Homo sapiens: one gene and its partners. The protein of the gene in region 1 interacts with the protein of each later gene in a biochemical or structural test. Each region holds a gene or a part of one and is shown in the gene's direction. Other genes may lie near its edges.

Region 1 (3,500 bases):
GCCTAATAATAATTTTTTTGAAACCAGACCCTTGTCTCATCCTTTCCTTTAGTCAATTCCCACTCCCTAGAGGAATCCACTTAATTTTTAAATTGTTGAAGTCCTCTGATGTTTTAACTTCATATTATTAATACAAAGCAAATCGTTTATACTATTACTTGATTTTTCAGTTTGAGAAAGTATGAATTGAAATGGTGAGGGATGAGGTTTAGTGAACACAAAACAAGCATTGCATAAAGTCAAGGTGATATACTCAGTCAGAATAGATTTCTGCCACAATACATGAAATTTGACTCCTAACATTATTCCTTTAGGAATAACATTATTCCACTCCTATTATGTGGATATAGAAGTCCTCTATTAATGTACAATTGGGTCATCTGATAATATTAGGGAGATTGAGAAATACTTTGTTTGTTGAATTCCTTGATTTAGGTTAGATTATCAGGCAGGCACTGAGCCATGTGGAATCCTAAAGAAGTAGGGGCACAGGATATGTAAATATTGATGTGAACAGGGAGAAAATAGGTTCAGTGTGTGATCCTGTCCTGTGAGGGGCGGTGGGAAATTGAGCATGGGAAGCAAGGCTGTCTTTTTTACTTTAAGGCTGATCAAAGACTGTTCTTTCACCTGAATTAAATCTAAGGCACAAATCATGTTGCTCCCTTATTTATCAAACAAAAACAATACACAAATTGGACCTCTTCTTTTTTGTCATATTTTAAGGCTCACATTGGGTGCTACAGGAATCATAAGGTGGTACAGGGACCTATAATGAATGTAAAACTTCTATTTGTTTTGCTAAGAAGATAGATTTAAAGGCTTTAAAGACTTTATCCTAATGAATCAATATTCAAATAGTTGAATTCCTCTTCTTCCTTTCCTGCTTGCTCCTAGTTTAAACTGGCAAGACCACAAAGTTAGCAAAATTCTGCCTCATTATTTATTCCAAAGGCAACACTTAAATTTATTCTTTGCCATAATGAGGCTTAAACTGGGCAGATTGAGAAAGAATGCTGGCTACAGAGTTCCAATAGCAGGATTAGTTAATCAGATATCCTGGTTGATTTTAATTGAAAACATTTGCCAACTTACTGTGACAACAAAAGGTAGATTCACTTTAAATTGCGTCTATAGAATTGTGGTATACTGTTGAATAAAAAAATTTAATAAATTGCGTAGTATTTATTTATTTTTACTTTAAAAACTAACTTTGACAGATCAGAGTCAAGGAATGTGTTTATAATGGACACTTCATCCAAAGAAAATATCCAGTTGTTCTGCAAAACTTCAGTGCAACCTGTTGGAAGGCCTTCTTTTAAAACAGAATATCCCTCCTCAGAAGAAAAGCAACCATGCTGTGGTGAACTAAAGGTAGAGCAACCAAGAAGTAAATAGTGTTGATGCTCTTAGTTTTCTGTCCAGATATCATCTATATAATGAAGTTAGAATGAGAATTGTTTTCTCCTTTAAAAAAAAAAAAAGATCTTAGATGCAATTTACTAAAACCACACCTTGCCAGGCGGTGCAAGCAATCTCTACCTGACCATGTGGGTTAAATTACTTTCCTGGGCTCATTTAAATGCCCCCCCAAACAGAAAAGAGAGAAATAGTAGAAACTAGTATTTATTGAACTTCTGCCATGTGCCAGATATTAAGCCAAGCACAGATATAACATTTAATTTGTGAAACATCACATTACTCCCATTTTGCAAATAAAAATGGGAATAATGTTACAGAGTAGGGAGAAGAGTTGCTTTTTTTTTTTTTTAGGATTGTTGTATCAAACAATAGTTTTTAGTTTTTTGAGGAACCTCCATACTATTATATTTTCCAAAGAGACTACATCAACTTATGTAACCACTAACCATGTACAAAGATTCCCTTTTCTTTACATTCTAACCAGTTTTTATTTTTTGTTATAGCCAACAGATGTGAAGTGATATGTCATAAAGATTTTTATTTGCATCTCCATAATGACTAGTGATGTTGAGCACCTTTTTCATATACCTGTTGGCCATGCCTTCTTTTAAGTAATGTCTATTTAGATTATTTGCCCATTGTTAAAATCATGCTATTTTTCTTTGCTATTTAGTGATAGAAGTTTCTTTTTTTTAATTATTTTTTAATTATTATACTTTAAGTTCTAGGGTACATGTGCACACGTGCAGGTTTGTTACATACGTATACATGTGCCATGTTGGTGTGCTGCACCCGTTAACTCGTCATTTACATTAGGTATATCTCCTAATGCTGTCCCTCCCCGCTCCCCCAATCCCCCGAGAATAGTTGTTTCTTAAGGGATGCTTTGTGTGCTCCTATTCTTTCTTTATACAAATATTCACTCAACAAATCTCTGCTTTTTTCATATAAATGCTAACCTTCCCTATGAATGTTCTATCACAGACCCATGTCTATCAAAATATATAAGCTAGATATCAAAGACATGTTTTCCATTGAGAAAAATATTTGACTATGAATTTAATAAGTATAAACATAAACACAAGGAATAATAGTTGCACTTTTTCAGTCTGTACATTATGTTCCCGGCTGGTGCATGCACCACCCTGTGAAATACATAATCCCAAGTGCTGGACTTGTTATAGGATGTCAAGTGTTTGGCTTATGGTTTCATTTACTTTCTTACCAATGAATGTCTCACCATACACTGACTCTTCAATGTAAGACTCCTTTGAGTGCCCCTCTGGAGCAGAGTGGAAGAAGACAAAAGATAATTCAATACACATTTCGCATAAAAACCAAATATATATTTTAAATTCCAAGAGAATTTGAACTGTTGAAAACTTACAGTGCTTAAGGCTGATGGAAACCTCGAACAGTGTTTGAATTAAAGTTTCAGTGATAATAAAGTTGATATTATACATTGTTCTTTGTTGTTTGTTTTGTATTTGTTTGTCTATTTACTTAGTTTCCAATTGTGTGTCAAGCTGGAGTCAGACTAAGTGTGACCTGTCATATTTTCCAGGTGTTCTTGTGTGCCTTGTCTTTTGTTTACTTTGCCAAAGCATTGGCAGAAGGCTATCTGAAGAGCACCATCACTCAGATAGAGAGAAGGTTTGATATCCCTTCTTCACTGGTGGGAGTTATTGATGGTAGTTTTGAAATTGGTAGGTATTACAGATGCCTGACTTTAATTTTAAGCCCAAGATCTTCTAGGTGTGGCTAAAGAACACCTTCTGCATTCTATTGTCTGCTGGGATCAGACTCTATTCATAAAATCTTTTTTTTTTTTTTTGGACAGAATTTACCATGATCTTATTCTACAGGAGAGGCAATTTTCTCAGAGCAATCAACAGTAAATTTTTCTCCCCAGGTGTTTGGTATTGTATGGTTCACACAATTCAGAGTTCTACATCAGAGTAAGTGACTTTCTTGGAGGAAAGGGTGAGATGCTAATTGGTATTTTGAGTTATAAATATGTAGAAGTATCTTTACAGAAGAACAATACACCCTGGGAGCACTATGATTCAATTTTAGAG
Region 2 (3,500 bases), on another chromosome or scaffold:
GGGCAAGGGAGTGCCACCCCCATCCTGGAGCCAGCAGTGCCCCAGTTCCTTGGAGACTGCCACGGACAACCTTCCTCCTAAGGTGGGTGCACCCCTGCCTCCAGCTCGGAGTGACAGTTACGCAGCATTTCGGCACCGTGAGCGGCCCAGCTCCTGGTCTAGCCTTGATCAGAAACGGCTCTGCCGGCCTCAGGCAAACTCTTTAGGCTCCCTGAAGTCTCCATTCATAGAGGAGCAGCTGCATACTGTGCTGGAGAAGAGTCCAGAGAACAGCCCCCCAGTGAAGCCCAAGCATAACTATACCCAGAAGGCCCAACCTGGCCAACCTCTGCTGCCGACCAGCATCTACCCGGTACCTTCCCTGGAGCCACACTTTGCCCAGGTGCCTCAGCCTTCTGTGAGTAGCAACGGTATGCTCTACCCTGCACTGGCCAAGGAGAGTGGATACATAGCCCCTCAGGGAGCATGCAACAAGATGGCTACCATTGATGAGAATGGGAACCAGAATGGATCTGGCAGGCCTGGGTTTGCCTTCTGCCAGCCCTTAGAACATGACTTGCTGTCCCCAGTGGAGAAGAAACCAGAAGCTACAGCCAAGTATGTCCCCTCCAAAGTCCATTTCTGTTCAGTGCCTGAAAATGAGGAGGATGCCTCCCTGAAGAGACATCTCACACCTCCCCAAGGCAACAGCCCACATTCCAATGAGAGAAAGAGCACCCACAGTAACAAACCATCTTCTCATCCCCACAGCCTCAAATGCCCTCAGGCTCAGGCCTGGCAAGCGGGTGAAGACAAGAGATCTTCCAGGCTCTCAGAGCCCTGGGAGGGCGATTTCCAGGAAGACCACAATGCCAACCTCTGGAGGAGGCTGGAGAGAGAAGGCCTAGGCCAGAGCCTGTCAGGCAACTTTGGCAAGACCAAGTCAGCCTTCTCATCTCTCCAGAACATTCCTGAGAGTCTGAGAAGACACAGCAGCCTGGAGCTAGGCCGGGGAACCCAGGAGGGTTACCCCGGGGGCAGGCCCACCTGTGCAGTCAACACCAAGGCAGAAGACCCTGGGAGGAAAGCCGCTCCTGACCTCGGGAGCCATCTGGACCGGCAGGTTTCCTACCCGCGGCCCGAGGGGAGGACCGGTGCCTCGGCTTCTTTCAACAGCACAGACCCAAGTCCCGAAGAGCCGCCTGCCCCCTCGCACCCGCACACATCCAGTCTGGGCCGGAGGGGGCCCGGCCCAGGCAGCGCCTCGGCTCTTCAGGGCTTTCAGTACGGGAAGCCCCACTGCTCGGTGCTGGAGAAGGTCTCCAAATTCGAGCAGCGAGAGCAAGGGAGCCAGAGACCGAGTGTGGGCGGCTCTGGTTTTGGCCATAACTATAGGCCCCACAGGACCGTCTCAACTTCCAGTACTTCTGGGAATGACTTCGAGGAGACAAAAGCACACATTCGTTTCTCTGAGTCAGCTGAACCCCTAGGCAACGGGGAGCAGCACTTCAAAAACGGGGAGCTGAAGTTGGAAGAGGCTTCCCGGCAGCCCTGCGGTCAGCAGCTGAGCGGAGGAGCGTCGGACAGCGGCCGTGGCCCCCAGAGGCCGGACGCTCGGCTCCTCCGTAGCCAGAGCACCTTCCAGCTCTCCAGCGAGCCAGAGAGGGAGCCCGAGTGGCGGGACAGGCCCGGCTCGCCCGAATCGCCCCTGCTGGATGCCCCCTTCAGCCGCGCCTACCGGAACAGCATCAAGGACGCACAGTCCCGTGTCTTGGGGGCCACCTCCTTTCGACGTCGAGACCTGGAGCTGGGGGCGCCCGTGGCGTCGAGGTCCTGGCGGCCACGGCCTTCCTCGGCCCACGTGGGGCTGCGGAGCCCCGAGGCGTCGGCCTCCGCCTCCCCGCACACGCCCCGGGAGCGGCACAGCGTGACCCCTGCTGAGGGCGACCTGGCCAGGCCCGTGCCCCCTGCCGCCCGGAGAGGTGCTCGCCGGCGCCTGACTCCCGAGCAGAAGAAGCGCTCCTACTCGGAGCCCGAGAAGATGAACGAGGTGGGGATCGTGGAGGAGGCCGAACCGGCACCCCTGGGCCCGCAGAGAAATGGGATGCGTTTCCCGGAGAGCAGCGTGGCCGACCGGCGCCGTCTCTTCGAGCGCGATGGCAAGGCCTGCTCCACGCTCAGCCTGTCGGGGCCCGAGCTGAAGCAGTTCCAGCAGAGCGCCCTGGCGGACTACATCCAGCGCAAGACCGGCAAGCGGCCTACCTCCGCCGCCGGCTGCAGCCTCCAGGAGCCCGGGCCACTGCGTGAGCGCGCCCAGAGTGCCTACCTCCAGCCCGGCCCCGCGGCGCTCGAAGGCTCCGGCCTCGCCTCGGCCTCCAGCTTGAGCTCACTGCGGGAGCCCAGCCTGCAGCCCCGCAGGGAGGCCACGCTCCTGCCGGCCACAGTTGCAGAAACCCAGCAGGCTCCCCGAGATCGCAGCAGCTCCTTCGCCGGTGGCCGCCGCCTCGGGGAACGGCGACGCGGGGACCTGCTTAGCGGAGCAAACGGTGGAACAAGGGGCACCCAGAGAGGGGATGAGACCCCCAGGGAGCCATCCTCCTGGGGGGCCAGGGCCGGGAAGTCCATGTCGGCCGAGGACCTGCTGGAACGCTCGGACGTCCTTGCGGGCCCTGTCCATGTGAGGTCCAGGTCATCTCCCGCCACCGCAGACAAGCGCCAGGTACGTGCAACCAGCAAGTCCTGGCCTCGAACTGTCCCTTCCTCCCTAGAAGCTTTAGTGGGGCTCCCCAACCCCCCACACTCTCACCCGCTCTCCCAGTTCAGTTTTCCTTGTGATTACAGAAAAGTAGCATTTGTTTTCATGAGTTGAGTTTCTCAAGTGTCCCTTACCTGGTTTCCTTATAAAGATATAGGTATCTAGATTACGTATGTTGTTATACAGATTCTCTATCTATCTGTCTACCTCCATTTTAGGAAGTCACCACCTCTCAATGGAAAAATGCAAGGTTAAGAAAAATTAGGGATTATCTTTTTTGTTTTTTGCTTTTTTTTTTTTAATGGATTAGAGTCTGGGTCTGAGTATTTTAAAAGTTTTAGCTTTGCACCCTTTCTGTTTCTATTGGACTTTGCATCTACAAAATAGCTAGAATGATTGACATTGATAGTCATTGGTTATTGAATTCCTGGCCCTCAGCTAAGTGTGTGGCAGGTCCTGAGCTAAGTGTAATCTACATTTATTATTTCATTTAACCCTCATGATAATCCTGTGCAGCAGAGTATATTATACATGTCAGACCCCTGTCTCTCGGACTCCCACCTCAGCTCTTTCTGTGCATTATCCTGGTGAGGAGAGAAAATAAGAAACTCAAAATCTCACATAAAAGGATTTTCTAATAAAGGCACCAAATGCTGCAAGGATTATAAAGTACTTTCCCCTGAAAATTTTAAGCAGTGCTGGGAATAGAAGCTGAGCATTCTGACTCCTAGGAGCCTGTTAATTTCCCTAATTCTTAGCCTATCCT
Region 3 (3,500 bases), on another chromosome or scaffold:
GTGCTGCTATTGTGTGTCTTTTTCTATTTCTGGTAACAACCCTGTTAAACAAAATCAACATACTGAATTTTTTTTTTTTTTTTTTTTTTTTTTTTTTTGAGACAAAGTATTGCTCTGTCTGCCAGGCTGGAGTACAGTGGCCCGATCTTGATCTCTGCTCACTACAACCTCTGCCTCCCAGGTTCAAGGAATTCTCCTGCCTCAGCCTCCCGAGTAGCTGGGACTACAGGCGTCTGCCACCACTCCCGGCTAATTTTTGTATTTTTAGTAGAGACAGGGTTTCACCATATTGGCCAGGCTGGTGTCGAACTCCTGACCTTGTGATCCACCCGCCTTGGCCTCCCAAAGTGCTGGGATTACAGGCGTGAGCCACCGCGCCCAGCCAACATACTGAATTTTTTACTGACTTATCTATAAATTGGAGTGCATAGTGGACACATAGCCATCCAAAAGCATTCTAAGTGAACCAAGACATAATGAGCCACCTGCAACAGCTCCATTAATAAGTCCCAGATGCTATCCCGTCAGAAAAGGGCCACTCCTCTTACTAAATGGGGAATTTATACTGAAAAAAAAAAAAAAGCCACTTCTCATACACACACACATAGCTGTTAAATCAGAATGAAAGGCTTATTTCCCCTATCTCCCTTTGGTTCATTACTCCTAAAAGGGTAAGGGGTGTCAGGCACTTAATCATCATTGCATCACTGTGGTGTGATGTACTCAATGTTTAGAGAAAAACTGTTTAATTGGTTCGATTTGGCACAGCATTTACATGACCAGGTCACAGTCTCATTCAGAAGAATCTGGTATTAATTATACATTTTAAACTATGGCCGGGTGTAGTGGCTCATGCCTGTAATCCCAGCATTTTAGGAGGCCGAGGCGGGTGGATCACCTGAGGTCGGGAGTTCGAGACCAGCCTGACCAACATGGAGAAACCCCATCTCTACTAAAAATACAAAAAATTAGCCAGGCGTGGTGGCGCAGGCCTTAATCCCAGCTACTTGGGAGGCTGAGGCAGGAGAATTGCTTGAACCCAGGAGGCAGAGGTTGTGGTGAGCTAAGATCACGCCATTACACTCCAGCCTGGGTGACAAGAGTGAAACTCCGTCTCAAAAAAAAAATTTTTTTTAAACTAAAACAAGCTCAATATCTAGACCTAAATACATTAAGTTTGACACACACACACAGAATCACACACAGTCACATTTGCTTTCCATTCTTTCCTTCTCCAGGGGAAACAATCCAAAACAGAACATTTAAGAAATCTCAGGCCGGTCGCGGTGGCTCATGCCTGTAATCCCAGTACTTTGGGAGGCCGAGGCGGGTGGATTACCTGAGGTCAGGAGTTTGAGACCAGCCTGGCCAACATGGTGAAACCCTGTCTCTACTAAAAATACAAAAAATCAGCCAGGCCTGGTGGCACATGCCTGTAATCCCAGCTACTCGGGAGGCTGAGGCAGGAGAATTGCTTGAGCCCAGGAGACGGAGGTTGCAGTGAGCCGAGATCATGCCACTGCAGTGCAGCCTGGCCGACAGAGAGACTCTGTCTCAAAAAAAAAAAAAAGAAAAAAGAAATCTCAGGGGCCAAGCACTTTGGGAGCCCAAGGTGGGCAGATCACGTGAGGTCAGGAGTTTGAGACCAGCCTGGCCAACATAGTGAAATCCCTGTCTCTACTAAAACTACAAGAATTACCTGAGTGTGGTGGTAAACACCTGTAATCCCAGCTACTCGGGAGGCTGAGGCATAAGAATCATTTGGGAGGTGGAGGTTGCAGGGAGCCGAGGTTGCGCCATTGCCCTCCAGCCTGCATGACAGAGTGAGACTCTTATCTCAAAAAAAAAAAAAAATCTCAGGCCAGGTGCCGTGCCTCACACCTGTAATCCCAGCACTTTGGGAGACCGAGGCAAGTGGGTTGCCTGAGCTCAGGAGTTCAAGACCAGCCTGGGCAAGATGGCAAAACCCCGTCTCTACTAAAAAATACAAAAAATTAGCTGGGTGTGGTGGTGCCCGCCTGTAATCCCAGCTACTCAGGAGGCTAAGGCATGAGAATTGCTTGAACCCGGGAGGCAGAGGTTGCAGTCAGCTGAGATTGCGCCAGTGCACTCCAGTCTAGGTGACACAGCAAGATTCTATCTCAAAAAAAAAAAAAAAAAAAAAAAAAAAAGGAGGCCGGGCACGGTGGCTCATGCCTATAATCCCAGCACTTTGGGAGGCCAAGGCGGGCAGATCACAAGGTCAGGAGTTTGAGACCAGCCTGACCAACATGGTGAAACCCTGTCTCTACTAAAAATACATAAATTGGCCTAGTGTGGTGGCACGCTCCTGTAATCCCAGCTACTCAGGAGGTTGAGGCGGGAGAATTGCTTCAACCTGGGAGGCAGAGGTTGCAGTGAGCCAAGATCACGCCACTGCACCAGCCTGGGAGACAGAGCGAGACTCTGTCTCCAAAAAAAAAAAGAAGCCATGTGCAATGGCTCACGCCTATAATCCCCACACTTTGGGAGGCCGAGGTGGATGGATCCCTTGCAGTCAGGAGTTCAAGACCAACCTGGCCAACGTGGTGAAACCCTGTCTCTACTAAAAATGCAAAAAAATTAGCCGGGCGTGGTGGTGTACATCTGTAATCCCAGCTACTCAGCAGGCTGAGGCAGAAGAATTGCTTGAGCCCAGGAGGGTGAGGTTGCAATGAACCGAGATCACGCCACTGCACCCCAGCCTGGGTGACAGAAGGAGATTCCATCTCAAAACAAACAAAAAAAAGAATCTCTAAATCTCTCTTTTTAAAATTGTTTAGACATTGCTCTGTCACCCAGGCTAGAGTGCAGTGGCATGATCATAGCTCACTGCAGCCTTGAACTCCTGGACGCAAGTGATCCTCCCACCCCAGCCTCCTGAGTAGCTGGGACTATAGGCACACACCACCATGCCCAGATACATTTTTTATTTTTATAGAAATGAGATCTTGCCATGTTACCCAGGCTGTTCTCTAGCGCCTGGCCTCAAGTGATCCTCCTGCCTCCTGCCTTAGCCTCCCAGAGTGCTGGGATTGTAAGCATGACCCACCACACCTGGGGCATTTGCCAGTCTTGATGACCAAAATTGTTTGTATCCTGTCAATTCAGAGGTGTCCTTTGAATTGTATCTTTGATAGCGTTGACTGTGACTTTTGCTGAGTATAGCCTTTAACTTTGATGAACATAATCTTTATCTTCATCCCAAATGCCAACCAAACCATGTCACGGCTCCTGAAAGGCCTCTCTGCCTTTGCTCCTTTGGTTGGTCCTTCTTGCCCAGTTCAGTCCTTCTGCCTCTTCCTCCCTGCCTGTCCAGTTTTACCAATTCTTTTTTTTTTTTTTTTTTTTTTTTTTGAGACAGTGTCTCGCTCTTGTCACCCAGGCTGGAGTGCAGTGGCGTGATTTCATCTCACTGCAACCTCTGCCTCCCAGGTGCAAGCAGTTATCCTGCCTCAGCCTCCCAAGTAGCTGGGATTACA
Region 4 (4,034 bases), on another chromosome or scaffold:
AAGAGGAAAATCACATCTTGCCCATCAGCTTTGTGTACATCATTCGAAAATTTTATCTTTAATATACAAAGAAAGTACAATCCTTCTTTGTGTGGTTACAGAGGGGAATGGTCACACTATGCTCTGGAAAGACATCATCTGGAAAACCAATAGGTAATTATTTTAATGTAAATATAGTGAAAAGCATCTTTATGTTTTAGAGTTTTGCTAATGCTTTCAGTGACTGCAACAAATTAACATACCACTTTCTTGCAACAACTCTATTCACTCTTCAGTTTATTTAAATGCCATTAGTTTTAGACTGAAGTTGATCTGTGGAAAATATATGTGTATAATACCAATTCAAAAAAATATATAAATTGTTTTGTTTGTTAAATGTATTGGAAATATTTAAGGCTTAGTTTCCAAGTGAGAAAAGGCAATAAACTTTAACTTTAAAATCAAGAATGTTCTGTGTGTCTATCTTCAAAAATCTAAGATTATTTCCGTTATCTATCTAGCTTTCTATCTTCTGATGAGCATTCAACAACAGCTTTATCTTTTCAATTAGTGACACCGTCTTAAATCACAGCAGCTCTTAGAAACAAAACTGGCACAAATACCCTCGCCTCTCAATGGATTTACATACTATCTTGATGTTGAAAAAAGTTGTAGACATGGAAAACAGCACAGTACAAGGGTGATGCTTATTTTATCTGGGGTTTATTGCATGGGCAGAGGCTGTCATTTTCCCATAGTGTCTTCATTTATTATGCTAATTGACTTTCCAAGCTCAGACTGGAGGGTGTCTGCCCTGTGAACTATTCTCAGTTGGAGGGTTTTAAAAGCAAACCTGTTTTGTGCCTGAATGAAACAAAAAATCAATGTGTTTCTTTTCAAAGAGGGAGGGTCAATACCGTGGTTGTTTTTGTTCCCATCCAGTTATGTAACCGTGGGGACTTGTTTCTTTGCTTTCAGGATTTGTACGAAACACATTAAAGTTAAACAATAGCGGAGGCTTAGGAGTAACCCTCGAGCTGCGCCTTGGAGTGTGTGTCCCTGGGATTGGGAACCTCCTGTGAGTTCCATATCAAGTGCTGCTGTGTGTGTGTGTGTGTGTGTGTGTGCGTGTGTGTGTGTGTGTGCGCGCGCGCGCGTGTGTGTGATTAGCCAGTACGCAGTACTTCCCCAGGGTTGTGTTTCCTTTTTCCTGAGATTTGGCGAAGGGTAAAGGGTCGGAGTCACATGGATACAAAGCTTTTGATTAATGTCCAAGTCACTGCTGTGGCTGCCGAAGCCGCTTCCCCTCCAGCCCCGGCCGTGTGAGGCCAGAGCAGCGGGGCCGGGCGCGCAGGGCCTGGCCGGAGCCCCCACTCCCAGGAGTTTCCTCTGCAGAGCCCCGCGCCCCCCGCGCCGGGATTTCAGCCCGATCCCCTCCTCTCCCTGCGCCCAGCCTCTCCCCAGCATGTAAAGTCTTCTGTCTCTCCTCGGAGTTGGCGGAGGCGGCAACTTTCCATTCTCGCCGCCGGGGGCCGGGCAGCAGCGGGCGCGCGGGTCAGCGCTCAGCACGGCGGGCAGCGCCGCGCTGCGCACCGCCGCCGACCATGAGCGAGGACAGCCGCGGAGACAGCCGCGCCGAGAGCGCCAAGGACCTGGAGAAGCAGCTTCGCCTGCGCGTGTGCGTGCTCAGCGAGCTCCAGAAGACCGAGCGGGACTATGTGGGCACGCTGGAGTTCCTGGTGTCGGTGAGTGTCCCCGGCAGACGCAGGGGGACGTCCGGGCGGCGCGGGGCGCGGGTCCCGGAGTGGCTGCGGGAAGGACGCGCGGCATTGTCTGTGCGGGGACCCGGGACGGGTCGGGGCATCACAGGCGCGGGAATCCACGTGTGGACTCTGCGTTCGCGGGCGCGGTGACCCCCGCGGGGATTTGTTGGTGCCCCGAGACTCACTGAGTTGCGGGGGCCTTGGAGACCTCCAGGTCTGAAAAGTTAGCTCTAGAGAAGAGAGCTCCAGTCCAGGGAATCCCGGCTGCCCTATCTTCCCTCACTTTTCTTTTACCCGCCTCCCCAGTCTGCTCAAGTGCACTGTGTAATTGATTTTCCTTCTTGTTCTTTCCTGGAGACTTTGTTTTAAAGCTTTGGTTTTGTGATTAAAGGTCCAGTCGGCTACATCCAGGTACACTAAGTTAAAAAAAATCCTTGAATGTGCTCGAGCTTGAGTTCGTTACTCAGATAACATGGCAGTGGCCGCTTTAGTTATGGTCTTTGAGACAGAGGATTCTGGTGTAGGGGTACAGAGAGAGCAGCGGGGTGATGATCTCTAGCAGCTGTTGGATATTAAAGCCACATGTGGCGCTCACCCTGTCCTAGTCTTACAATTCCCTCCCCCCCGCCCCCCGCCCCGGCTTAAATCTGTCTTCTGCTCAGTTTCTGGTCCCCTGTTTACATGGCCCATGAGAGTGCTGTAATCAAGCTTCGGGACTTCGTGGAAGTGGGGATGTACTTATATTCCACGTTTCTGCTTGACTCACTGCCATCTGCTTTGAAAACGTCTCATTCATTTTAGGGCCGAAGGGGCAAAACTGAGTGAAAGTAACTGCTGAGATAACACTCAAAAGTTGAATTTTTCCTATTCATTGCTGAAAAGACAAAGAATTTGAGCCTTGGCTTCTTTCCACCCAGATTCCTGGGAGAGCATCATTCAAAGAACCAGGAGCTTTAGTTTTTGTGATCTCATCCAAATCCTTCTCCTTCCAACAACCAATTCCATGCCCCCTTGGTCTGAAGGAAAATATTTCAGGTGCCAAACTTCCTGCTTAGTGTTCTGAAATCTGTCAACTTTCTGCTTATAATCATGACAGATAAAATTCACTTCTTGGCTGTGGCAAGAAGGAAAGAAAAATGTCTCAAGTGATGTAAAATGTACAGGCTGCGTTATGGTTGACTTCTCAAAATCAATATACTTGACTTCCAGGGGCCACATTCTCTGCAAATATACAGGTATTTGAGAATATCCTGGTAACTGGTGGTTTATAGAATTATTATATACTTCCTTGTAACAAAGATTGTCAAAAAAGTATGTTTTTAAGATTTGATTTTTAATAGCTTTAAATTTGGCTTTCATGAAACTTTTTTGGTAACAAAGTTCTTTGTCTTTTGAAGAATCTGAGTCATTTCTTACATAATTACTCTTTCTGAAGATCTGTGAACAAAGTACTGTGCAGAATGCTAATTTGCAGAGACAGTTAATCTAATTATATTAAAAACCAATTTGTTGATCTTTATTTAAAATATCAGTTTTTCTTCTAATCTTAAACCTGATCATTACAACAGAAAACTTACTGTTAGTATATAGAGTTAGGTAAGAAAGTGTGGAAAGTATAAAATAAATTTTCCCCTTTTATAAGGAGAACATCATTTCATGATTTCTTTTTATCTCTTTCAGAATTTATGGGCTCTTCCACTTTTCATTTTCTTTGTGCATCATTTGTGCCTGTTTATGTTTATATGCACAAATGCACTAATTAGTCTGAATGCCATCCTAAATAAAAGTTTACTCTGGCTTACAAAGCCTAAGATCTATTTATAATAGATTATTAGATTTTCTTTTTAGGGTGTTATTTATAGCAACATTTACTCCCCATGGAGTTTTCTTGGTTACCTGAAGTTGATGTAGTCACTCTGGTTTTGATATTAGACTATGCTAATATGTACCAAGAGCTTTTAATCTATGCAAACCCTTTGGCCTGGTAATTCCTCTTCTAGGAACCTATCCTAAGGGAATGATCAGAGATGGAAACAAGCAATAGAAGTTATTTTTAAAAGTTAGCCATAGTATTAAATAAGTCGAGTGGTAAATTTGTTGCCAAAAATTGATAGTTTACTCCTAAGTCAAATTAAATATTTGTTAGATTAGTCATTAATCATTTCTATTATTGCTTTAAGCCATTAACATGGATGAAGGATGACTAATCTTTATTAGGAAGAGGAAGAAGAGGTAGAAAACATATTTTTAGTTCTACTAAGAACATATTTTTACTTAACTGCCCTATAAATA
Region 5 (3,500 bases), on another chromosome or scaffold:
CTGGGGAGTGGAGGGGGATGCTTCTGTGGCCTCATTTGTACCCCTGAGAGCATAGGGCTCAGCCGTTCCTGTCCATGTTTTTCCTGCCACCCCGCACAAATGTCCCTGGGATTTGAAGAATCTGCTCCACTCCCCTCTTCCCGTACAGGGGCCTGCAAACTAGAGGCATTTGCCCCTGGGCCAGCCGGGCTCCTGTCTGACCCCTCCTCACGAGGTGGACAGGTCCCCCAGGAAAGGGACCACGCCTTGCTCCTGTCTGCATTTCAAGGTCCTACAGTGGCCCCAAGCATGGACCAGGGGACTTTGGCAGGGGAAGATACTGACCCGATGGCGTCGCTACTGCCCCTCGTCTTGGTTCTGGACTTTCCCTCCCTCGAGGGTCATTCAGCTCCAGTGGCTGAACTTGCCGAAGGTCGTGTGGCCCAGCTGGGATCCACACCTGGCGGCTGCCCACTCCACCGTGCAGAAGAAGGCACCGGTCGCTTCCCCGGCCTCCAGATTGCCTCCTGGGTGGCACACCAGTTTATTTTTCTGTTCACTTTCAGGTAAAGCAGATGAGGTAGCACAGTGGTTGTCAGACTTCTAGCTTAAGGAATCTTTTTTGCTCTCTTAGCATTTTGAAGGACCCAGAAGCTTTTTATGTATGAGCACGAATCTATTGTTATTTACGCTATTAGAATTTACAAATATCTAATTATTAATGCATTTAAAAATAGTAATAAACTCATGACATGTTGGTATAAATAATGTGTTTTTATGGATAACAACTATTTTCAAAATAAGAAAAACACTTGGTGAGGCCGGTCGAGGTGGCTCAGGCCTGTAATCCCAGCACTTTGGGAGGCTGAGGCAGGAGGATTGCTTGAGGCCAGGAATTTGAGACCAGCCTAGGCAATATAATGAGACCCCATCTCTACAAAAAATAAAAAATTAGCCAGGTGTAGTGGCACGCACCTGTGGTCCCAGCTACTCAGGAAGCTGAGGTGGGAGGATTACCTGAGCCTGAGAGGTCGATGTTGCAGTGAGCCGTGATCACGCCACTGTACTCTAGCCTGGGTGACAGAGTGAGGAAAAAAAATAGTGCAGTGGCTCACACCTGTAACCCCAGCACTTTGGGAGGCCGAGACGGGTGGATCACTTGAGGTCAGGAGTTCGAGACCAGCCTGGCCAAAATGGTGAAACCCCATCTCCACTAAAAATACAAAAATTAGCCAGGCACAGTGGGGCACACTTGTAGTCCCAGCTACTCAGAAGGCTAAGGCACAAGAGATCACTTGAACCCGGCAGGCGGAGGTTGCAGTGAGCCAAGATTGCCCCACTGCACTCTAGCCTGGGCAACAGAGTGACAGTCCATCTCAACAACAACAAAAAAACACTTGGTGAGAAGAGTGGCATTGTTTAACATTTTTGTGGTCTTTTTGCTGTGAGGTTTAATGGAAGACAGCTGGGTTCCCGTATCTGCTCCTGCAGTCAGCTTGTTGCAATATCACAAGTTTTGTAGCTTCCGTTGTGCACTTGGGAGAGGATGAGCTTGAAAAAGCAGCTCCCATCTCAGTGTTATGATGAGAATGGTTTGACTTCATAGATCTCTCGAATAGGCTGGTTCCCGGGGCTGCACGCTGAGAGCCTCTGGGAGGAGCGTGTGATCCGCCTTGTCAGTGCATGGGTCCCGTTTGAAAGCTGGCTGTGCCATGTGGTCCAAAGGGTGCTTTGAATGATGCATGTACCTTTTCTTGTCGTTCAGGATATGTCTGTGGAGTTTAGTCAGGGGCTTCAGACAGCCACCAGCTGGTTCCGACCCCAGGGGCAGGCCCTCTGATTGTGGGGTCTAGGATGGTGGGAGCATGCAGAGGCACCTTCCAGGCTGTGGGGTCAAGGAGGCTGGCAGAGCCTAAGGCAGTTTAGGAGACTCTGAGAGAGCAGCCTGGCCAATTTATAGAGTGAGGCAGGCTTGCAAGTGTAGACAGGAGAGTGGAGAGGACTTTGTAGGTGTCTGGCTGCCCAAGGAAGCCTATAGTTTTCTTTTGAAGTCTGGTTTTGGTATCAGAGTAATACTGGCCTCATAAGATGACTTGGGAAGCATTGTCTTCCATTTTTTTCTGAAAAGTTTATGCAAAATTGGCCTTCATTCTTCTTTAAATGTTTGGTAGAATTCACCAATAAAGCCATCTGGGCCTAGGCTTTTCTTTGTGAAAACTTTTAAAATTATTGATTGGATCTCTGCTTGTCATAGGTCTTTTTAGATTTTCTGTTTCTTCTTGAGTCAAGTTTGTTAGTTTGTGTCCCACCAGAAATGTGTCCACTTCATGTGAGTTTCTCTAATGTGGTTGCTATGTAGTTGTTTGTAGCACCGTCTCATTATTATTATTGTTATTATTTTTTTGAGACAGAGTCTTGCTCTGTTGCCTAGGCTGGAGTGCAGTGGCGTGATCTCAGCTCACTGCAAGCTCCGCCTCCCGGGCTTACACCATTCTCTTGACTCAGCCTCCCGAGTAGCTGGCACTACAGGCGCCCACCACCAGGCCCAACTAATTTTTTTGTATTTTTAGTAGAGACGGGGTTTCACCGTGCTAGCCAGGATGGTCTTGATCTCCTGACCTCGTGATCCGCCCGCCTCAGCCTCCCAAAGTTCTGGGATTACAGGCATCAGCCACCACGCCCGGCCTGACTCCTTTTAATTCTGTAAGTTGGTAATAATGTCCCTTCTTTCATTCCTGAGTTTGGTAATTTGAGTCTTCCCTTCTTTTCTTGATCATTTCAGCTCAGGTTTGTAAATTTCGTTGATCTTTTCAAATAACCAACTTGTAGTTTCATTGATTTTCTTTATTGCTTTTCTAGCTTAGATTTCATTAACTTCAGCCCTAACCTTTATTATTTCCTTCCTTCTGCTAGCTCAGTTTCAGTTTCCCGTTCTTTTTCTGACTCTCACAAGGTGGAAGGTTTTGGTTATTGATTTGAGATTTTTCTTCTTTTTAACATAGACATTTACAGATCTGAATTTCCTTTAAGTACTGCTTTAGTTGTATTCCATAAGTTTTGATGTGTTTTGTCTTCTTTTTCACTCGTTTCAAAGTGTTTTCCAATTTCCCCGTGGTTTATTCTCTGACCCATTGGCTATTTAGATGTCTGTTTAATTTCCACATATTTGTGCATTTGTAAAATAAATTTCGAATTTCATTCTATTGTGGTTGGAGAACATTATTTGTATAATTTCAGTCCTGCTGATGTTTAATGAGGCTGTTTTATAGCCGGGCATGAGGCCTCTCCTGGAGAATGTTCCACGTGCCCTTGAGAAGAATGAGTATTCTGCCGTCTTTTGTGGCATGTGCTGCAGGTGTCTGCTAGGCTGCTCTAGACTCTGGGATACAACAGTGAACCAGACAGACAAATATTTCTGCCCTTGTAGGGTCGACATCCTCGCCAGGGGAGCAAACAATAATTAAAGGAGATCATAAATAAGCAGTGATGTAGTGTGGGAGGAAAGGAGAGCTTGCTGGTGG
Region 6 (3,500 bases), on another chromosome or scaffold:
AAACAGTGCCATAGCAACTGCTGTTAGCAACATCAAATCTCCTACTGATAAATTATCAGAAAAACTTGTGGGGCTTTGGTTGTAGAATGAAAAAGTATGATTTTCATGTCTGTATTTCTTTGCTGATATGTTCTCAAAATTGTTGTTAAAAACTGATGTTTGCCTTTGCTTAGTGGGGATAGTTTAACACTTTCCTCTCTGTCTCTACCTGCCCCCTTCCAGGTGGTGCATATGAAGTCAAACAGCATCGATTCTTCCGTTCTTTAGACTGGAACAGTTTGCTGAGACAGAAGGCAGAATTTATTCCCCAACTGGAATCTGAGGATGACACAAGTTATTTTGATAGTATGTGCTTTATCTGACATAAAACATTGTTTGGCCTTTACTCGATAAATAATTATCTTTGCTTTTGAACCTTTTCATATCTCTGAGTTCTTAAACATAATGTTGATCCAGAAAATCATAATTAAAATATCTAAATGTTGAAAATCTGAGTAATTGGACCTGTTCCCAAACATTTCACTGCAGCTCGGTCTGAGAAGTATCATCATATGGAAACGGAGGAAGAAGATGACACAAATGATGAAGACTTTAATGTGGAAATAAGGCAGTTTTCTTCATGTTCACACAGGTTTTCAAAAGTAAGTGAAATGTGGCATAAACATACAGAGTCTCTCTGGGAGGATCTCCCGCTGGCCAGATAGTATCCCCGAACAGCTGGACACTTACCGTTTTCCAGGGTTTGAGGTCTCCTATGCTTAAACTTCCTTTTGTTGAAGAAAAGTGACCTCCTCAACTTATAGTCTGTCCCTATCCCCTAGGCCTTTAGACTGCCATTTTACCTTCTCTCTTTCCTGTGAGACAACAGAGATTCAGATAGCTGAGACCTTGGGCTTACCTGAGCTCTGATCCCCTTCAGGAACCCCGGCACCAATATATTTCTCTCTCCACAAATTAAGATATTGTTTTCTTAGAGGCATAGCCTTGCACCCACAGTCTTGTTTTTGGAGTGTGTGACTGCTACTTATATGATGACCTTGCCTTGAACGTCTCTCACCTGGCTCAATGCCAGGCTGCAGAGGTATCACTCATTGCTTTCAACTCAGGATGAAGAGCGCGAGCTTCACTGTGTACAGAGTCATCTCCGAGGGATTACACAGAGTACAACAAAAGGAGAAGGCTCAGTCCTTGACATAAGCAAAGATACCTGCGGACAGTTGACTGTAGGATTGTAAAGTCTCATAACTGCCAGGCATAGTGGCTCACGCCTCTAATCTCAGCACTTAGAGAGGCAGAGGCAAGAAGATAGCGTAAGCCCAGCAGTTCAAGACCAGCCCGGGCAATATAGTGAGACCCCGTTCTCCACAAAAAGGAAAAAAAAAGCCAAAAAAAAAAAAAAGTCTTGTAACCAATAAACAGAAATTATAAGCCATATTGAAAAGGCAGTAGGAAGCCAAGCTAGAATCATTTAGATAATTGATGCTTGAGAAAGATGCCTTTTTACCAGTACAGTAAAAGTTAAAAAAAACAATTAATCAAAACAAAGAAAACTGATAGTACTGAGACAGAACAAGGCCCTAGGAAAAACGGAAATCAACCTGAGGGCACCCTACCTCCCTTTTGCTATTTTCAGTAGCTATATATTTTCTGTTGCCATGGCATTTTGCATGATTATTGTTTAGCTTTTCTATAACATTTAGTGATTTTAAAGTGCTCCGTAGCTTTTTCTAAATGATTACCTAGATGCACCTGCAAATTGGCCAGCACTACCCTCCTGTGTATGGGAATGGCATCGAGGTAAGGATTTCCCTGGAGAAGGTGGTAGCCAGTCTGTCCTAGAGCCAGGACAGAAGCTTTGCTAAGTGTGGACTCAGACCAGGACTGTTCTCTGGGCCATCAAAGACAACAATGCCAACCCCTAAACACTGCTTCCTTCTTTGCCTTGGTGGGTATTTCATTTTCCCACCATCTCCTTTTCTGTAGCCACTTTCCTGCTATTCCTAGTAGATTATAGGAGGCCTGAGGACCATTCCCATGAGAGCAGCAAGTGTCTGAGCAGGGCAGTAGGGAGCGCTTCCTGCCCTAGGCTCTTAGACCCCCATTTTACCTTCTCTCTTATGAGACAACAGAGATTCACAGATAGCTGAGACCTTGGGCTTACCTGAGCTCCGATCCCCTTCAGGAACCCCGGCACCAACATAGGAAACTGCCTGTCTATAGATGTGATTTGTAAGCGAAACAAATACCTCTGGCTCTTATAACGGAATATGTACTGCATCCTTGCCACACCACCACCCAGTCTTGAAACAGATAATTTATTCTTCTGTTTGCACTCAATTCCAATTCATTTTTCTTCTTCCCACCCCTGACTGGTGGCCATTAAATCTGTTTCTCTGTTATTTTCTTTTTCCAGTTGACTTCATGGTTAAAAAGTAATCAAGATGTGCATTGATCCCAAGGCCTAGAAACTCCACTGCATCTGTGGATTTTGTTTGCAGATACAAAGTCCGCAACAAGATATGATGAGAGGATGATGAATTCATAGCTCCCTATTCGTATATATGTACACACACACACACACACACACACACACACTCACTCACCCTGACCCTTCCTCTCTGGATTCTGGTTAACAACACTGGAAAGTACTTTCTGAATACACAATATTAGTTCAGAATTTAGTTATCCTCTCAGGTTTTTCTCCCAAGACTTGGAGTGTTTTTCTGACAAACTCTTTTTAGTAGATATTAATAAGCACCAATTATTTGCCTTCCAGGTTTTCAGCAGTATAGATCGAATCACTCAGAATTCAGCAGAAGAGAAGGAAGACTCTGTGGACAAAACCAAAAGCACCACCTTGCCATCCACAGAAACACTGAGCTGGAGTTCAGAATATTCTGAAATGTATGTGAAATGCCTCTTAAGTAATATAAGCAGTAGCTACTAGAGCAGAGTTTCTTAAACTTTAGTGAGCATCAGAATACCTGGGGGGCTTGTTAAAACACAGATCTCCCACTTCCAGAGTTTCTCATCCAGTAGATCTAGGGTAGGGCCTGAAAATGTGCATTTCTGACAAGTATCTAGATTATGCAGATGTTGCTGCTGTGGGTACCACACATTAAGAACCATTGCACTAGACATCTCTTGGTTAGGCTTATCCAAGTCCGATTTTCACCTGGTTTCTTCCAAAATTCACCTTTAACACAGTTTTCTAGTATGTATATATGACTTTGTTTTTGCTTTTAATTAAGGCAACAGCTATCAACATCCAACTCTTCAGATACTGAAAGCAACAGACATAAACTCAGTTCTGGCCTACTTCCCAAACTGGCTATTTCAACAGAGGGAGAGCAAGATGAAGCTGCCTCCTGCCCTGGAGACCCCCATGAGGAGCCAGGAAAGCCAGCCCTTCCTCCTGAAGAGTGTGCCCAGGAGGAGCCTGAGGTCACCACCCCAGCCAGCACCATCAGCAGCTCCACCCTGTCAGGTAAGCCCCGGGC
Region 7 (3,500 bases), on another chromosome or scaffold:
TCAGTAGAGGACAAGTGTTTTTACTTTTCCTGAACTATTGCCCAGAGATAGCTCAGTAAGACTATTTTAAAATAACTCCTTTAACATTCCATCTCTATTATCTTGAATGTTCTTAAAATAAGATTTTAAAAATTCTATAATTGTGACACATAAATTGTGGACTTGATGAATACCTATGTAGACTGATGGGAAATGAATGTTTTAAGGCATAAAGCTTTATTCGCTCATGCTTTTATGATATTTACTCATGTCTATTTATTTTACTTCAGCTGCTGATAAATGTTAATATTTATCTGGCCATTTGTCTGTATTGGTCTACAAGGCTGGCATGAATTGAAACTATTCTCTTCTCAGCTTCACAATTGATTGCTAACGTTATTCAAAGTGATTTAATCTACTTCCATCCCAAGGCCTTCCTAAATTAAAACTCTCTGACCTTTTGGTACCCTCAAATTCAGTTTAACAATGTATTTAACATTTTCTACATAATAATGATCTAATTTGCTAACATCATGCTTTTTTAATACGATATTATAATGTTGTATAAATACTGTATTACAGGGAAGCTTTTCCAATTACTTGCGTATAGAGAAAGGTGCATTTTGTTTAACTGTTAGTTTGTTTTCATTTTGTTTAGTTTTGTTTTGCCAAATGCAGTTGAAAGCAAAGGTAGGAGTAAGTATTTTGAGCATTGGTCGGAAATTGCACTACCACATAAATTCTAAGGTAAATTCCTTTGAGTAGAATCCAAGTAGAAGCTCACGCCCTTCAGCTGACGTGCCTGCATGAGTCATAACTGTCTTTTAAGGAAGGAGGAAAGGGGCAAAGATAATTATGCTGCTTCCAAAATTAAAAAAAATACAAATATAAAAAATGAAGGCATTTCCTACAGCTGTTCTGTGAATAATACCTCTAAAAACATTTACAGTTTAAATTAGAGTTTCAGAAAGAAGTTATTTAACTCTTAAACTGACATTGCTTCTTCTCAGAAACCCAAATTTGCACAGACAACTGGGAAGATCAAAATCAAAGAGCTGTGGTGTACAGCTCTAGGCTCCTTAGCTGAGAGATAAAGGAACAGTTTGACTTCAGATATCCTAAAAAGAAAATGCTCCAAGAAACAGATCCAAATAGAAGAAAGGGAGACATCTCAGATTATAAATACTCCATGACTTAATGATTCATTGCAGCACGGAAAGGATTTCTCTTTACGCAAGAGTACTGGGCTGGGTCCACTTATTACGAAACACATGCTCACTGGGGCTTAAAAAACAGCTTCTATTTCATTCCTTTCAAGAAAGCACAGCCTCTAAAAGGACTAGTTGAGTTATCTGTAAGTTAAGATTGATCTGAAGGTGCTGGATATGTTTATGTGACTTCATAATGTCTAGACCAAAACTTAGTCAATAAGACATTGAAATGCTTTGTCACATTCTAGCAAACTCATTATAAGAGATACCCAGATTCCAAGTACTTACAGATAAACGGGATCCATGTAGTTTTTTAAAAATAAAAGCTGAATTTAGGATGGATTCAGGTTTCATAATCTTGTGTAAGAGTTTCTTTGTGCTTTTAAAAAAGTTTATTTGGTATCTCTTTAAGTAATAATATGAACATGTTGCCACCTTCTGTTTTCAAATATGTTGCAACTGACATTTAGAAGAAAATATTTTGACTATATCACATATTAGACATCACAAAAGTGTCAGGAAGTTCTTTGGCAGATGTAACATAGTCTGATTTAAGTGTCTGGAATGATTTTTCTGTGTGCAGACCATCCAGTGGAATAAGTGAGGCTTTGATATCTGAAAATGAAAACAAAAACCTCGAGCATCTCACACATGGGGGTTATGTGGAAAGTACCACCCTGCAGATTCGACCGGCCACAAAGACCCAGTGCACAGAATTCTTCCTCGCCCCTGTCAAGACTGAAGTTCCCCTAGCTGAGAACCAAAGAAGTGGTCCCGACTGTGCAGGCAGCTTGAAAGAAGAAACAGGCCCGAGCTACCAAAGGGCTCCCCAAATGCCTGACTCCCAAAGAGGACGCGTGGCAGAAGAGCTGATCTTAAGGGAGAAGGTAGAAGCGGTACAGCCTGGGCCTGTGGTTGAGCTGCAACTGTCCCTTTCACAGGAGAGACATAAGGGCGCTAGTGGCCCTTTAGTGGCTCTCCCGGGAGCTGAAAAATCTAAGTCTCCTGACCCAGACCCTAACTTGTCACATGACAGGATTGTCCACATAAATTCGATCCCTACTAATGAGAAAGCAGACCCTTTCCTGAGGTCCAGCAAGATAATCCAGATCTCCAGTGGCAGAGAGTTGAGAGTGATCCAGGAAAGTGAAGCAGGAGATGCGGGACTGCCCCGGGTGGAAGTGATCCTCGACTGCTCTGACAGGCAGAAGACAGAAGGGTGCAGGCTTCAGGCAGGAAAGGAGTGTGTGGATTCTCCAGTGGAAGGAGGGCAGTCAGAAGCACCTCCTTCTCTGGTATCCTTTGCCGTCTCATCAGAAGGCACAGAGCAGGGAGAAGATCCACGCTCGGAAAAAGATCACAGCAGACCTCACAAGCACCGAGCGCGGCATGCACGTAAGTTCTGCCTGGGCTTTCAGAAGGGGCTTGGGAGTTGGGGGCATTTTGCTGCTTCTTTGCTTGCATGAGTTTTTCAGCAAGATTTTTCTTATGTTTCTCATTGGCTTAAAGAAATATTTAATTAATGCACAAAATCACAAATGTGAAATTGTGGAGAATACCAATTTCTAAATAGGAAGCAATAAGTCCGAACTTCATATAGATTTAAACATTTTTCATGAATTTCTTTTTATCCCCAAAGGCACAGGAACTGTTAAAGAAAATAATATTGTCAATGTGCCTGTTCATTTTGTTTCAGACAGTTGAAATAGTTCATGTTAAAATAGCATAAGAAAGCACTTGAAGTCATGTGGACTCAGTTTAAATGTCAAAAACTGTTGAGTCTGCTACTGAGAGGTGTCTTTAAAATAAAAGCTCTACCATTGATATCAAAAGCAGATCCTTGTTTTGAAAAAAAATCATTGTGCAGCTTGATGATGCTTGCAGAAGTGAGTTTGACAGACAAGGACATGTGTATACTGAGCAGTTACATGATCCTCTCCGTTGTGTAAGTCTTCATTTGACTGCAAAGTGTTTCATCTACCTTCTAGACACAGAAGTCAGTCTCCAGGGCCATGTGGAGGCATTTAAATGTCTCCAAACATAAAATATATTTAAATTCAGTGCTTTGTATGGCATTTTGTTTTACCCAGGGGAGAGAAGACAGAAAGGAGAATTGGGATAAGAATTGCAGTTAGGTGTTAGGATTTCTATTGTTTTATTTCACGTTTATTTTTGTTTGTTTTTTTTTTTTTTTTTACTAATTTTGGAATTTTATTTGAGGATGTAAAGGCTGACAGGCAAAGGCACTTGACTGTATATATGATACACAATGGCAATGAATTCGGTTATTCAAAGTAGGATATTAAGTCT

The links.
Region 2: the proteins of SLCO1C1 (region 1) and SHROOM3 interact in a test that uses a peptide from one of them, tested with the Homo sapiens proteins (one large-scale study listed by IntAct).
Region 3: the proteins of SLCO1C1 (region 1) and SNTB2 interact in a test that uses a peptide from one of them, tested with the Homo sapiens proteins (one large-scale study listed by IntAct).
Region 4: the proteins of SLCO1C1 (region 1) and PREX2 interact in a test that uses a peptide from one of them, tested with the Homo sapiens proteins (one large-scale study listed by IntAct).
Region 5: the proteins of SLCO1C1 (region 1) and SHANK2 interact in a test that uses a peptide from one of them, tested with the Homo sapiens proteins (one large-scale study listed by IntAct).
Region 6: the proteins of SLCO1C1 (region 1) and MAST4 interact in a test that uses a peptide from one of them, tested with the Homo sapiens proteins (one large-scale study listed by IntAct).
Region 7: the proteins of SLCO1C1 (region 1) and SYNPO2 interact in a test that uses a peptide from one of them, tested with the Homo sapiens proteins (one large-scale study listed by IntAct).

What each region holds. Positions count from the first base shown.
Region 1 is NC_000012.12:20,698,332-20,701,831, forward strand, and holds part of SLCO1C1 (solute carrier organic anion transporter family member 1C1), read left to right. Parts: intron 1-1,220; 5' UTR 1,221-1,245; coding exon 1,246-1,374; intron 1,375-2,986; coding exon 2,987-3,128; intron 3,129-3,500. UniProt on the Homo sapiens protein: Mediates the Na(+)-independent high affinity transport of organic anions such as the thyroid hormones L-thyroxine (T4), L-thyroxine sulfate (T4S), and 3,3',5'-triiodo-L-thyronine (reverse T3, rT3) at the plasma membrane.
Region 2 is NC_000004.12:76,739,229-76,742,728, forward strand, and holds part of SHROOM3 (protein Shroom3), read left to right. Parts: coding exon 1-2,698; intron 2,699-3,500. UniProt on the Homo sapiens protein: Controls cell shape changes in the neuroepithelium during neural tube closure. Induces apical constriction in epithelial cells by promoting the apical accumulation of F-actin and myosin II, and probably by bundling stress fibers.
Region 3 is NC_000016.10:69,295,164-69,298,663, forward strand, and holds part of SNTB2 (beta-2-syntrophin), read left to right. Parts: intron 1-3,500. UniProt on the Homo sapiens protein: Adapter protein that binds to and probably organizes the subcellular localization of a variety of membrane proteins. May link various receptors to the actin cytoskeleton and the dystrophin glycoprotein complex.
Region 4 is NC_000008.11:67,950,812-67,954,845, forward strand, and holds the start of PREX2 (phosphatidylinositol 3,4,5-trisphosphate-dependent Rac exchanger 2 protein), read left to right. Parts: upstream 1-1,234; 5' UTR 1,235-1,583; coding exon 1,584-1,724; intron 1,725-4,034. UniProt on the Homo sapiens protein: Functions as a RAC1 guanine nucleotide exchange factor (GEF), activating Rac proteins by exchanging bound GDP for free GTP.
Region 5 is NC_000011.10:71,242,578-71,246,077, reverse strand, and holds part of SHANK2 (SH3 and multiple ankyrin repeat domains protein 2), read left to right. Parts: intron 1-2,549; exon of another isoform or gene 2,550-2,682; intron 2,683-3,500. UniProt on the Homo sapiens protein: Seems to be an adapter protein in the postsynaptic density (PSD) of excitatory synapses that interconnects receptors of the postsynaptic membrane including NMDA-type and metabotropic glutamate receptors, and the actin-based cytoskeleton.
Region 6 is NC_000005.10:67,141,893-67,145,392, forward strand, and holds part of MAST4 (microtubule-associated serine/threonine-protein kinase 4), read left to right. Parts: intron 1-222; coding exon 223-345; intron 346-528; coding exon 529-641; intron 642-2,776; coding exon 2,777-2,904; intron 2,905-3,251; coding exon 3,252-3,487; intron 3,488-3,500.
Region 7 is NC_000004.12:119,024,854-119,028,353, forward strand, and holds part of SYNPO2 (synaptopodin-2), read left to right. Parts: intron 1-1,773; coding exon 1,774-2,585; intron 2,586-3,500. UniProt on the Homo sapiens protein: Has an actin-binding and actin-bundling activity. Can induce the formation of F-actin networks in an isoform-specific manner.